Linked DNA regions of Homo sapiens: region 2 is linked to region 1. Evidence: fine-mapped expression QTL. A gene starts in region 1. The other region holds a variant in brackets. All regions are shown on one strand. Distances are from middle to middle. Region 1 holds the start of STRAP (serine/threonine kinase receptor associated protein). Region 2 overlaps EPS8 (EGFR pathway substrate 8, signaling adaptor).

What was found. PIP is the estimated chance that this variant, and not a neighbour inherited with it, causes the effect. A credible set is the group of variants that fine-mapping cannot tell apart.
Region 2: its variant is the best candidate, but not a certain one, in a credible set for the expression of STRAP in whole blood (INTERVAL, PIP 0.66).

The regions. Positions count from the first base shown.
Region 1 is chr12:15,880,609-15,885,010 of GRCh38, reverse strand. It overlaps STRAP (serine/threonine kinase receptor associated protein), which reads right to left and starts at 2,624. Exons shown (of 10, transcript NM_007178.4): 1 at 2,192-2,624; 2 at 1,335-1,470. The coding sequence starts at 2,303. It overlaps LOC102724146 (a long non-coding RNA gene), which reads left to right and starts at 2,713. Exons shown (of 6, transcript XR_007063230.1): 1 at 2,713-3,231; 2 at 3,812-3,904. RefSeq lists enhancers at 2,547-2,666, 2,977-3,206.
Region 2 is chr12:15,717,535-15,721,936 of GRCh38, reverse strand. All of the region lies in intron 1 of EPS8 (EGFR pathway substrate 8, signaling adaptor), which reads left to right. Among named protein-coding and RNA genes, the nearest start is that of EPS8, 70 kb to the left of the region's middle. The variant G/A (reference allele first, on the strand shown) is at 2,325.

The sequences.
Region 1 (4,402 bases):
GCAACGAGGGCCACTGCAAGTCAGTTTAATAACATAATTAACCGCCAAAAGTCAGAACAGGTAAGGTATATTCTGGCAACAATAAGATTAGTATAATTAGATTGTAGGTTTATGGTGTGCAATGGCAGAGGATGATGCTGATGAACTAGGATGAAGCAAACTGTAAAGGGCCAACAATTGAAATGTGTCCTTTAGGTCAGCAATTCTATGACTGCACATCAGGAAAGAAAAGGAAGAAAGAAAAATAAAAAAACACCAATAATCAGTATGACCAGTACTCCATCCCCAGACCAATCAAACCAGAATTTCTGTACCAGGCACAGTAGTTCACCCCCGTAACCCCAGCTCTTTGAGAGGCTGAGGCATGGAGGCCAAGAGTTTAAGACAGCCTGGACAACATAGCTAGATACTGTCTGTATAGTAAAAAGTATTAAAAAATATTTTTAAATGTAGTAAAAAGTATAAAATATAAATATATAGTAAAAAAGTAAAAAAAAAAAAAAGTTTTAAAAATCCGAATTTCTGGGACTCATACCATTTGAATATTTGAAAAGCTCTCCAGATATTCTAATGTACATCAAAGGTCATGAACTACTAAAATGGCAAAGGGAAGACAGGAAGATCATTAGTAGAGAAGTGACATGATCAAGTATGTTTTTAGGAAGACAACTGGCAACAATATGGAAAATGAATAGGAGGAAAAGAAACTACTGAAAGTTAAAAATGATCCTGAACTAAGGCAGCCACAGTTACTACATGAAGGAACATTGGAGTCAGGAGACATCCCGCTGGCAGAATCAAAAAAGATGATGATAATCTAGATATAAGGGAAAATCAAGAATGCTTTAGATTTCAACCTTTAAAAACTTAGGAAATGACGAGCAGCTGAGTTTTGTTTTTTTGTTGTTTTTTTGTTTGTTTGTTTTTGACACAATGAGTTTTAATGATGCCTAAAGCCAGTTAACAAAAACCGGGATTGAAATAAAAACCTAGGGCCATCAATGTAGGATATCACTAAGGAGTACACACAGAGCAGCATTCGTAAAGGAGATCAACATTCATTATCTGGTGCGTTTGTTAATGCAGATTCCTGAGTCTCAATCAAAATATACGGAATAAGTCATTTAGGCCTCTGAAAATTTTGAGAACCACTGAAGACAAAGAAGCACACAGGACCACGATGGACCACGATGGAATTTTGGTGGGATCAAACATGCGTTCTGTATGGCAGCCAGTGAGTCAGAATTTTATGAATATCTGACACTGAAGTTTTTGATTATTTCAGGACACAAGCTACAGAGAACACCAAAGTTAGCCATCTTGGCTACACTTACGCTGTGAAATCTGCAGCTGCTGTAGCTGCTTTGGTGGCATCCTTATTCAGTGTTGCACCCCAAACAGCACCTTTATGACCCAAAAATGTTCCAATCCAGTCTCCTGTATCTCCCTGGCGTAGCATAGGTTTACCATCTAGAAAATATTTTTTAAAACATGTAATTTATAAGTTCAGATTACTTAAAGTCTAAGATTCAAATGTAAATATACAATGATGTTCAATGACAAAGTGGAAAAATTGTTTCAGCTATTTAACTACCACCACCCACTGAAGGCACTAAGGAATGTGCAGTAATAAATTAACTGAAGAGCTGAACAGATCATTCTCTCTGAAAAGCATCTGTAATTGGCTGGGAATACTGATCTGCGTCAAAACAATCTAGATTTTAGTCTTATTTTGGACAGACATCTTAGCCTGAATCTCAGTTTCCCATTTGAAAAATGAGGCTAATACCACAAAGGAATATCCAGTGAGACAAGAGCGAACGTCTTTGTAAGGTATTGCACGGCCTGGCCTAATTTCTCCTTTCCCCAAATCCTTGAAAGCTATTTACCGTGTTGTCCCGAGAGTCTAGGCAAATGCTGACCAGCTCCTTCAAAAATAGCAATAAAAATAAAATAAGGAGAGAGGTCTTAGTTGGAGGTAATAGTTTCTACAAAAGCGTCCTCTCGGCTCCAGCTGCGGATTCCCTAACACACTCCTTTCTCCACCGGACCAGTGTTGGCTCTCATCTCAGATGTTAATATCGCCCCCTCCCCCCTCACCACACCACCGCTTCGGCACTGGAGCGTGCGGGTCCCGATCCCTTTCAGCCCAGTCCCAGCCGTCGAGGACCAGGATTGCGGCCTTGCTCACCTTTGCAAGCGCTGATTAAGAAATACCCATAAGGCGTGATGCCACTGAAGGCCAAATCAACCACGGGTCGCGTGTGGCCAGAGCAGGTGAGCGGCGTCTGTCTCATTGCCATGGCGGCGGCGAAGCCAGCGACCGGACTGGCGAGCTGAGGGTCGTCGTTGTCTTTTCTCTCTTCTGCTGCAGTGCCTCGGGCTGCTCCAGGCCCCCGCCCTGACACTAGGGCTGGGCTGGGCAACAGGAAAAGAAGGGCAATCCGGTGGCACCGAGGTTAGGGAGGGGTGAGGGAGGGGTCAGGGAGTCTGCGACCAGCAAGCAACAGTCGACGAGGGAGGGAAAGGGAGGGAGGGAGGAAAGTAGGGGATGGGGAGAAGCGGAGAACCGGGCCAGCCACGATTCACAGCGTCCACACCGGCATCGGCAGGAAGTGACGACGTAAATGACGCAGAGCACCCGCCGGAAATGACGATTGGCGGGAGGGCGGGCTCGCCGGGTAGAAGTGACTTGAAGAAAGAGCGAGAAGTATAGAAGGGCGCAGGCGCTAGTTCAGTGCTCGTGAGGTAACTGGCGCTGGCCCACGCCGACTAAGGGAGACGCTCTAGGCACCGGGATGGGGTCCCTGTCCCCGAGCTCTAGCGGGTCAGAACGCCTTCCTGGTCCGCGGCCGAGTTGAAAGTTGTTCCCACTCCCATAAGTCCAAGGACCAGCGTCAGCTGTGTACCTGCCGAGCAGCCCTACTGAGGACTGTGCTCGGCCTCTGAATATCTAGACGGACACGAGCCATACCCAGTGACGGCCCAAACCAGCGAACGCTGTCTGGCAACGTTTTTTGCAATTTGTCTTATTTAAAAACCATATACGGGCTTGGAGTGGTGGTGCCTGTGGTCCCACCTACTTGGAAGGCTGAGGTGGGAGGATAACTCGAGCCCGAGAGGTCGACACCGCAGTAAGCGGTGCTCGCGCCACCGCACTCCAGCCTGGGCAACAGAGCGAGACCATGTATTAAAAAAAAAAAAAAAATCCCCAGTCATTTCTTCCGCTGTGTAAGTTTTCCTATGTTGCTAATGTTTTAGGAGTGGATACTATATAGTTTTAAATGCGATTAAATTCAAGTTACTTTTTCCTTGGTGGACTTCGGAGAACTCTAGAGTCGTAGATCCCCAATTTTTTTGATGAAATACTCTCATCCGTAAAGTGAGCCTTCACTCATTTTATAAGCGAATGAATGCTGAATTCTATCAAAAACTTTTACACCTTTTGATATGATGTATATATGAGTGATGATTTGCAAATTACATAGATGTGCATTATAATACATGGACAAAAATAGAAATATTAAAATAATATTTAAATATAAACAAACTCTGATATTGTCTGCAGCAGGCAGCCCACTGTGGCTCTGTGAAACCACCAGAGCTGTTAATTGTTGATACTGTTTCCTAACCAGGAGAGGGCTTTTCTCTGGGCAAGTTGTATCTTTATTGATAGAATGTAAACCCAATACAACAGAGATTTTTGTGTTTTCTTTGCTACTTTATCCCCAAGGTCAAAACGTCTGGGCACATAGCAATAAATATGTAATCAACATAAATGTCTGTGAATGTTTTCTTCATCTTTTTGCAGCAAACACCGTCTACAAGATTCGAGTCAAACAACGTGAGAACTTGAAATACGTCTCCATTCTTTTTCCTTAGTACTCTCGTTCATTCACTTACGGTAAAGCACTTACTATATATGTTTTTCATTTTATCTTGTTCGACTCCTCCTTTGTGCCATCCTCTCCCTTTTGTCTCACACATACGCACCACTCACACATTTATGAACTCCTTAATGGCAATGGTTATGGCTTTGTCATTTGTACTCTAGTGCCAGAAAAGTGAATGGCATTTAGTGAATACTCAGCATGACTGTTTACTGATTAAATAGATTGTTGCATTACTGATGGAGGTAAATAAAAGACCCACTCAAAATGACACAACTGGTCAGATACTGATACATGTTCATTTATTGCTCATTGTGTGTAGATAAGAATATAATTGGTAAGTTATGGTACATACTTGGCTCTAAAGAATGTATTATTTCCTGCTCATTTGGATTCTGAGTTCTAAGAGTATTGTGTATTATGACCAATTGGGTAGGCTTCAAGGTCAATTTAATATTAGAAGACAGGTTAATGTAATTGATATAATTAACAATATTAAAAGATTAAAGAAA
Region 2 (4,402 bases), 160 kb after region 1:
AAATGTGAAAGCATTTGTCTCTGGCTAGCAGGATGACTCATGATTTTTGTTCTTAAAATAGTTTTGTATGTTCTAACTTTCTGCCATGGATTTACTTTTATGATCAGAAATAATATTTATAATATATAATAAAAATTTTAAAAAGTCTGATATTTGGTGCTGAATGAAACACTAGAAATCCTGTAGGCACTTCTTATTTCTATTTGTTGTAGTAAAGTGTGCTTTTATTACTTTTAAGTTTTCAGGAAAATCCTTTTAACTTGATGCGCAAGACAAAGGCAAACAAGATTGTTGTCTTTCACAAGAAATGGAGGATAAAATGTACTATTCCAAAGAAGGAAAACTGATGGGCTGAGATGTAGAGCAGTGTGCCTTCTAACTGGAGAGCTGCCTGGGGGTTTGGAGATGAAATTTTTTATCTATTGGTTCACAGAACCGGCTGCTTCCAGACGATTACTTTTTTGTTGAGCCCCACAAACCTCGTTCTTTTAGCTGAGTATTATGTAGTTTTTCCAGTATTGCTTTCTTTCCCTCATTACATCTAGGAAAACAGTTTGGAGATGAGCTACTGGAGTTAAAAAAATCTATTTGGTTTTATTTGTCAATTAAAAAATCTATTTGGTGTGTGTTAGGTTTATTTTTGTGAGTGGGGAATGGCATATGACTGTATATTACAGACATGGGTGGGTTTCCTACAGATTGTGAATGGGAAAAGTTTGAGTTACTCTGTTGTGGTATTTGTGTTATAGTATTTTCTTGCTTTCTTTTCACTCTGAGTATATGTGGACATATTTTTGATTGCCTTCACCTATTATGTGCCAACTATTGTACTAAGTGCTGGGGATACAGTGGTAAACAAAGGCTGGCCCTTGCCCTCAAGAAGTATGTATTCTAATGGGACAGACAGGGCAAAAATAAATGACATGCAACATCACCAACTGTAGTAAGTGGTAGGGAGAAAATAAAAAATAAAAGCACACAGAGATTAATGCAAGAGGGTGGGTTAGGTTTGGGGATAGATAATCTCATACAGCACTTTAAATATCTGGGTGTGCTTCTCTGAGCAAGTGGTAGATAAACAGGCTTAAAGGATGAGAATTGCTAAGAAATGGAGAACTTGAGTTTCAGGCAGAGGGAGCAACATGCCCAGGGAGTCCACAGCTGGGGCAAAGTGAGCAAGGAGGTCATAGAAGAAGGAAAGAGACAAAACTGAAAAGTGAGGCAGGGGACAGATCCTAAAAGGGCTTTTAGGTGACAGTAAGAGGCTTTGATTTTACTATGACTGCATTCAGACAACACTGAAGCGTTCTAAGTAAATAACACGACCAGATTTAAGGAACACCCCATTTGTTGATCACTAAGTGTATGATTATTTGTAACACTTAGCAGAATGTGACTGTCAATGGACCTCTTTTACAGTATGCTTTGCTTACATCAGTAGTGTGACCATTATGTTCTTAGTCACCCTGGAGTAAAGAAGAGTTATTGTTGGGCATGATGGCACATCTGTAATCCCAGCTACTCAGGAGGCTGAGGCAGAAGGATTGCTGTAGCCCAGGGGTTCAAGTGTAGCCTAGGCAACATAGGAAGACCTTATCTCTTAAAAAAAGAGGTTACAATTTATGTTACCTCATCTGATCCCAAGTGTTATCTAGCAAGGGGGAAATATTTGAATTACTTAGAAAACTCAGATGTGATTTTTTAAATCTACCATTTATTACTTATAATTAATCAGGTACTATGCTATACTCTTTTCATATATTATTTGAAAATAATATGTGAAGAAGATACTATTATTTTCATTTTATAGATAAGCAAACAGATTTAGTAATGTGGCCAAAGTTGTATAGCCTTAAAGTATGGAGTTGGGATATGAGTCTGTTTTGTACATGAACCTGAATTCTTTACAACTACATTCTACTGCCTATACTGATGATTTGTTTGTCACATAACACTAAATTGTATAGCCAGGAAAATAATTAAGGTTTAGATTTCAAATCCATGGCTTTTTGCCCATAACATACCACCTCTTGACGTAGTTGGTTTAATCTGTTTTTCATAGCCCCATGTCAAAAATAGAAGGGGATTAGATACCATTTTTAGAATTACAATTAAGAGGTCTTAAACTATAATCTAAATAAAGATTAAGACTTGGTTAGGAGAATAAGCATTTTATCAATTGAAAATAAACTTGAAAGGGATCCTTAATATTTTGCCCACCCAGGGTAAACATTCACTGCACTAACAATTTTCAGCCAAAGGCCCCAGCTAAATTCTGCCACCTGGGCAAACTCTAGTCCAATGATATTCAAAGAAATTAAACC[G/A]TTTTAAAAACTGATATGTCCTCTGGCAATTTAATGTGAGTGTATCACTGTGGCATTCAGCTTCAGATCATGTGTTGCTGTAATATCTTCTCTTTATATGACTGCATTTCTGTTGTGTGTCACTGACACGGCTTGTCTGATTTCAAGCCCTTTCTATCACTCCTATTTATTGGTAACATACAAGCTTCAAGGATCATTTGATGTGCAAATTTAATTGCAGGTTTTACTTTTAAAGGATGACATAAGCTATATCATTTTAACAACTGTTTGCACAGCTTTTTCTAAACTGCTACTCAGAAAACAGGCATTTTTATTCTGTGTATTGTAATGCTTCCTGACTTGTCAAGGCTGCTTGCTCAGTAATTAACTTATATGTAAGTATGTATGTATGTGTGTATATATATATATATGTATGTTTATATATACATATATATGATGATGTTTTGCAGTGCTTCAATAGGTACATGCTTTGGAATTAAACTTGGGCATTTCCCCTGATTTTTTGATAAGAGGACACCTTATCAGCATTCACAGTTCCTTTTTTGTATTTACTGATTTGCCCCTTTCTCTTCCTTCCTTCCTCGCTTCCTTCCCATTGCTATATAGCACATGATTATAGATAGGAGAGGTTAAGTCTTGCTACCTAGCTAATGTGATAATTTCCTGACAGTATTTCAGAGTTAAGGTAAAAATACTCCAGAAAGGATTGATACTTCTGTAAGAAATGCCTTTTTTTTTCTCTAAATGGCACTTAAGAACCCGGAAGCACTCATGATTTTAATAAGCTGAAGTAGTCCTGTCGTTTTGTTTAGAGTTTAACTTTTTGTGGAAAGGACAGGCTTTGAGGACATTGTAGGTTTAAAAATGCGTTTTACAAGGACCTTCTAGACAATTCTTTTGATATACATTCACCAACATGTCCAGCTAGCTGATTTGGTAGAATATGAGACTCTTGATATGCACTCATCAAGCTAATTACAGGGGATGGGAGTTCCATTTGAGCCAGGTGAAATGAGGAAAGTCTAAGTAAAATCTTCATAATTATGGGAAATATTGATACTACATGCCAAAAGCTTTCATTTTCCCTGCTTCAATTCTTTGTACCTATTGTGTTTCAGCAGAGTCTGTATTTAAATGGGAAATTTTCAGCAGAAATGGGAGGCTCTATAAATATTGTTATTCAATAATTTGTAAGGTGAATTTGCAGATGTCCTCATAGTGACTCATAATTTTTCCTTATTCGTCATTAGGTTTTGTGACTATTTGGTTATTTCTTTTTTCAGAAATTTTATGTTGAAAAGTGTAAAACTGCTAGTTACTGTATTTTAGCCAAAATCTAATTAAATAGGTTTTCTCCTTTTAAATTTGAATTAGGAAAATGTTCTGGGGTATTGGATCTGAATGAGACTGTACAAATTGGTCTCATTGGTCTCATTTTACAGGTGAGGAAGCAGAGGCTGAGAGAGGTTAAGTTACTCACCAAAGGTTATAGAGCTATTAAGTGGCAGACTTGGTGCACAAACACAAGCTTTTGGTTTCCTTGTGCTGAGGTCTTAACACTTTACATCTAATCTTTAGTTATAGGACATGAAAGGAAATGAGAAATCACTTTTTCCACCAATTTTTTTGTTTCTTGCTGTCTTTTTAACTGAAATTGCCAAATAAGATCATGTCTTATTGGAGCTGTACAGTGATTTCTAGGTTGAAAGTGACATTTAAAATCCATAATCAAATAAGTTTGTGTGGTGTTTCCCTTAATGCATTCCTAAACATTGCCAATTTAAGGCAAAACTACCATTTTGTTCATTTATATTCCCTGTTACATAATTTTGCGGTTCATTTTTCTCAAATCAATATTTTCCTAACTTAGACTACTAATGCCATCTATACACTTAATTTAAGTATGGTCTCACTCTTCTAAATAACTTCTGGAAAGAACGTATAATATTGGTCCTGCTATTTATATTTATTCATGCCAAGAAGTGTCCATTTCATTTCTTTTTTCTTTCTTTCTTTCTTTTTTTTTGAGATGGAGTCTCGTGCTGTCACCCAGGCTGGAGTGCAATGGCACGATCTCG